2 separate regions of the Homo sapiens genome follow, and region 1 is linked to region 2. Evidence: fine-mapped expression QTL. Tissue or cell type: whole blood. Region 2 holds a variant in brackets; the other region holds the start of a gene. All regions are shown on one strand. Distances are between the middles of the regions.

Region 1 (2,681 bases), 62 kb before region 2:
CTTATCAGGGCTGAAAATGTTTCCCAGTTTTCATTCTCCTGGTTGTTTAGTGCCTAAGGGTAGAAAAACAATTCTCTGGGCATCTATATAGTTAGGCCCCAACTTTTATTTAACTTGAAATCTTAAGCTTTTCTAAGAAGCTAAAAGTTCATATATATATATATATATAATATACATTATATATTAAATATATAATATATATATTTTTGAGACGGAGGCTTGCTCTGTCGCCCAGGCTGGAGTGCAGTGGCGCGATCTCGCCTCACTGCAAGCTCTGCCTCCCGGGTTCACGCCATTCTCCTGCCTCAGCCTCCTGAGTAGCTGGGACTACAGGCGCCCGCCACCACGCCCGGCTAATTTTTTTTGTATCTTTAGTAGAGACGGGGTTTCACCGTGTTAGCCAGGATGGTCTCGATCTCCTGACCTCGTGATCTGCCCGCCTCGGTCTCCCAAAGTGCTGGGATTACATGTGTGAGCCACCGCGCCTGGCCAAAAGTTCATATTTTTTAAAGACTGACAAGGGTAGGCGGTTCTGGGAAGCTGTCCTTCAACTGACCTGACCCGAAGGCAAACGGCCCTCCGCGAGGAATGCACCTACCACAAAGCACCCAGAGGACACCCAAGTCCCAAGGCTTCACCCACCTTACTCCTAGCCACTCCACTCCTAGATATTTATTTAAGAGAAATGAAGACACAGGTCCCACAAACGCCCACGAATTTTCATGGAAGCATTTTTCCTAATGGTCCTAAACTGGAAACAACCAATGGATACACAATTTGTGATACTATTCAACGATTAAACAAACCACATGGTCGAGTCCAAAGCATAGAGTGAAAACCCCTGAGACCACATGCTCATTCATAAATTCTAGAAAGCACCCTGTTTATTTGAAATTCCGGAAAAGGCAAACCTAACCTACAGCAATAGTCATCGATGAGATGCGGGCGTTAACTTCAAAGGGGCAGCAAGGGGAATTTTTGGGGCGATGGAAATGTTGTTTTGAGTAGTTACTCCTGTGGATGCCTTTGTCGAAGCTCATCTCAAACTATGGACTGGCAAGATGTGTACACTTCATTGTATGTAAATTATACACTAAACAAAAAAGTTGTAGGGAAAAAAAAAAAAAAGCAAAACAAGCCCTGAGACTTACTGAAGCGTTTCTTTCCAGGAAAGCCTGGAGGAAGGCAGCGCTTTTCAACTCCCCAGCGCATTGCCGGCCCTGGAGACCGAAGGAGGTGCCTGGAACCAGGGTGAAGTCCAGCGCGCAGGGTCCTCCCGCGCCGGCCTCGGGCGCTCGCAGGGGGCGGGTCGGGACCTGGGATTGCGCCGGGCTCTTCCTGTTCCTGCCGCGCCCTCTTCCCCGGCCCGGCCGGGCGGGACCAGTGCGCAGCCGGGGCTGGCGGGCGGCGGGGTCCGCGGGGCCGCAGGAGATGACGGCCGGCGGCCAGGCCGAGGCCGAGGGCGCTGGCGGGGAGCCCGGCGCGGCGCGGCTGCCCTCGCGGGTGGCCCGGCTGCTGTCGGCGCTCTTCTACGGGACCTGCTCCTTCCTCATCGTGCTTGTCAACAAGGCGCTGCTGACCACCTACGGGTGAGGCGGGGCCCGGGGCCGGGGGGTCTGCGGGAGTGCGGGGCTGCCCCTGTCCTCCGTGCGCTTCAGCGGCGCCCGGGACAGGGCGGGTGGGGACAGGGACCCTCGAGTCTCAGCTGGGCACATTGGTCGAGTTTCCCAGGCGCCCTCCAGAACTCGCTCAGCTTTCTACACTCAGGCCACAACCTGAGAAAGTCGTTCTCTTCCTGAGCGCGCCTGCCCTGCTGCGAGGCGCCCTGTCCTAGGTGGGCTGGTAGAGCTCAGACAGATTCTTTCATACACCCAGCGAGCTGAAAACAGGGATTCAAATGCCTGCTTCAAAGGACGCAATTCCTTACACAGATCTCCATGTTCAACGGTCAGGTACTCCTGAGCCAGTAAGTCTGTATTGATTGACTGTTCATTCTCAGATGACCAGCGTGTTCATGGAAAACTCGGGAAAACAATTGGAAGTTCATATGGAGTACTTTTTTGGATTAGTGTGAAGTAAACGCAAATTTGTGCTGCCTTGAACCTATTTGTAAGGACTAGAAAATCCTGCTTAATTCTGCTACCATTGTAGCGGCACTGAGAAAATTGTGGATTTAGACCCAGCTCCACCGGTTAACACCTGTCTTTTTGGACCAGTCTCACAGTCAGCAATTTTTTTCAGATGCAAAAAACCTGAATGATTACAATCGTGTTAATTACCCTCCAGGGCTCTGCACGAGCTGTTATATGTGAAGGCTCTTTGTAAACTCTACTATGTTACAAGAATATGCCATCAACATTTTAGAGCCCAAAGAGACCTAGAGTGTCTTAGTTAGAGAGTATCTTAGAGTATCAGCTTTCTTTTTTTATATATACATACAGATTCAGCTTATGTGGGTCTCACTTTTCTCGAATATAAAATACGAAAGCTGAGGCTGGCTGAGGTGGTTTGCACCTGTAATCACAGCATTTGGGAGGCCAAGGCAGGCATATATATATATATATATATAGTGTGTGTGTGTGTGTGTGTGTGTGTGTGTATAATATTTTTTTGAGACAAGGTTTCACTCTGTTGCCTAGGCTGGAGTGTAGTGACACAATCATGACTCACTGCAGCCTCGA
Region 2 (2,681 bases):
ACCAGCCTGGCCAGTATGGCGAAACACCATCTCTACTAAAAGTACAAAAATGAGCCAGGCGTGGTGGTGAGTGCCCTGTAGTCCCAGCTACTTGGGAGGCTGGACTGGAGAATCTCTTGAACCTGGGAGGCAAAGGTTGCAGTGAGCTGAGATTGTGCCACTGCACTCCAGCCTGGGCAACAGAGTGAGACTCTGTCTCAAAAAAAAAAAAAAAAAAACCCCAGAAAACCTCACTACCCAATGATAGTAAAGAGATAGGAACCTGGCAAGCTGATGACAGCCCCACTCTTCCTCTTTTGCCTGCATGCCAACTGGATCAAGAGAGAGAATAATGCAATTTTCTGTTGTTATCATACCATAATTTACTGCATTTATTTAGTAAGCCCCATATGTAATGGCTTATTTATTTATTTTTCTGAGGCAGGGTCTTGCTCTGTTGCCCAGGCTGGAGTACAGTGGCATGTAGCTCACTGCAGCCTTGACTTCCTGGGCTCAAGCAATCCTCCCACTTCAGTCCGTGTGGAGTAGCTGGGATTACAGGCATGTGCCACCATGCCCGGCTACTTTTAAAAAATTTTTTGTAGAGATGGGATCTCACTATGTTGCCCAGGCTGGTCTTAAACTCCTGGGCTCAAGTGATCCTTTGACTTTGGCCTCCTAAAGTATTGGGATTACAGGCGTGAGCCATCATTCCTGGCCTGTAATGGTTTTTATTTTGTTCAACCACCTGTGAATATCCCTATGTACAAGTCTCTATGCAAAGTAACTAAAATGTCTAGTTTCAGGTTTTACTATTTATATTTTCCCCTAAACAGTTTACTTTTAAAATGACGAATCCTCTCTCTTTTTCTGCAGAATGTATCCGTTGCCTACATTGGGATATTAATCGGTGGAGACTACATTTTCTCTTTGTTAAACTTTGTAGGGTTAAATATTTGGTGAGTGGGAATTTTTAATGGACTCGCTTTGGGAAGACAAGAACCTTAAACACTCTGATTAATATGTAATAAGCAAAAGAGCCTGGAGAAGTCTTTCACGTTAAGCCAGGAGGCGTTTTGACATTCTAATTTCTAAG[A/G]TAATTTTACTTCATCACTGGGTTCATCCTCATGCAGATCCATGGGGACACGTGTGATGGCAGTTTGCGGGGCTGGGATCGGAATTTAACTCACCTGTCTTCCTCACAGCAGGCCCCTGCGTTCTCTGCCCTCCTCCTATAAAGTGGAGGGTGTTAACCTTTGTGCCCACTAGGCTCGGCATGCAGGGGGTGTGGACTAAGCCAGCTTTGAAAGGCATTTGGGGTCTCAGCAGTGGGATACTATTTAAGGCTAAGGGTATGTAGTTTATTCAGTAGAAACCAAGTGCTTATTTTCTCTCTGAGGTTCTGCATTAGATTTGATGACTCTTTTTCTGCCTCCAAAGGCTTGTAAATAAGGGGAAATTCTCATCAAGCAATCCACAAACTTGAGGAGAAACACAGATATTGGAATAATTCCCTCCGCATGAAGCAGGTGTATTGATAAAAACGCCAGCAACTGCTGCTGGAGCCCCTGTGAAATTCCCAGTCATTTATTTTCACTTTTTTTTCTCCTTTCAGCATGGCAGGGGGCTTGAGATATTCCTTTTTAACACTGAGCAGCCAGTTAAAACCTAAACCTGTGGGTGAAGAAAACATCTGTTTGGATTTGAAGAGCTAAAGAGTCTGCAGCAGGATTGGAGACTGACTTGTGACTGCGGGCTGGGGGGGCATTCCCAGTAGGAATGTGAAGCCAGAGGTTTCGGATTCGTGACATCCACCCCCTGGGCAAGTGAGAGCATCTGCAAAATGCAAAGAGAACTACCTCATATGCAGGATGAGCCAATGGCAGTCTCAAGAAATGTACTCGGGCGACACCTTACCTGTGGAAAGCAAATCTTTTCAAAATAAGCCACTGGGACTCGGTAGGTGGAGCCCCAGCTGCTCTTCTAGGGACCTATGGGGCCTTCGTGGCATCTCTGTGCTGTGTGCTGGGGAGGAGGTTGATGTAATGGTGACTCTTTTCTGATCAGCACCTTGGCCGTGATTCCCAAGGTCCCAGCCAAAGCAAAGGGCCAGTTGTTTCAGTTTAAACAGACATGTCTTTAGTCTAATAAAATTAGTTAACTGCCAGTAAAGTTATTTGTTAGCTTTGATGAAAGCTATGTTGGTATCTTTCCCTAATCATCAAAGTAAATAAAAAATCATTTCTATGTATGCCTCATCATGTGATATTATTGGAGGCAGAAAACGGTGCCCATCATTCACAATGTAACAGAATGTGTCACCTTGAAGGGACAATTCCAGACTCCTTTATGACTCGAGGTTGGGGAAAGCTACAAAGTAACTCAATGGGAAAAAAAAAATACTCAGGCTTTATCCTGTTAGCTATTTTTTTTTTTTTTTTGAGACAGAGTCTCACTCTATTCCCCATGTTGGAGTGCAGTGGTGCAATCTCGGCTCACTGCAGCCTCTGCCACCCGGGTTCAAGTGATTCTCTTGCTTCAGCCTCCCGAGTAGCTGGGATTACAGGCATCTGCCACCACGCCCTGCTAATTTTTGTATTTTTAGTAGAGACAAGGTTTGGCCTCATGTTGGCCAGGCTAGTCTTGAACTCCTGACCTCAGGTGATCTGCCCACCTTGGCCTCCTAAAGTGCTGGGATCACA

The links. PIP is the estimated chance that this variant, and not a neighbour inherited with it, causes the effect.
Region 1: SLC35D2 starts here. The variant in region 2 is fine-mapped to the expression of SLC35D2 in whole blood (TOPMed, PIP 0.98).

The regions. Positions count from the first base shown.
Region 1 is chr9:96,382,385-96,385,065 of GRCh38, reverse strand. SLC35D2 (solute carrier family 35 member D2) reads left to right here and starts at 1,355. Exons shown (of 12, transcript NM_007001.3): 1 at 1,355-1,589. The coding sequence starts at 1,432. SLC35D2-HSD17B3 (SLC35D2-HSD17B3 readthrough) reads left to right here and starts at 1,355. Exons shown (of 26, transcript NR_182427.1): 1 at 1,355-1,589. RefSeq lists silencers at 1,367-1,696, 1,707-1,756.
Region 2 is chr9:96,320,255-96,322,935 of GRCh38, reverse strand. SLC35D2 (solute carrier family 35 member D2) reads left to right here. Exons shown (of 12, transcript NM_007001.3): 11 at 856-938; 12 at 1,595-2,226. The coding sequence ends at 1,694. It overlaps SLC35D2-HSD17B3 (SLC35D2-HSD17B3 readthrough), which reads left to right. Exons shown (of 26, transcript NR_182427.1): 11 at 856-938; 12 at 1,595-1,938. Among named protein-coding and RNA genes, the nearest start is that of HSD17B3, 19 kb to the right of the region's middle. The variant A/G (reference allele first, on the strand shown) is at 1,076.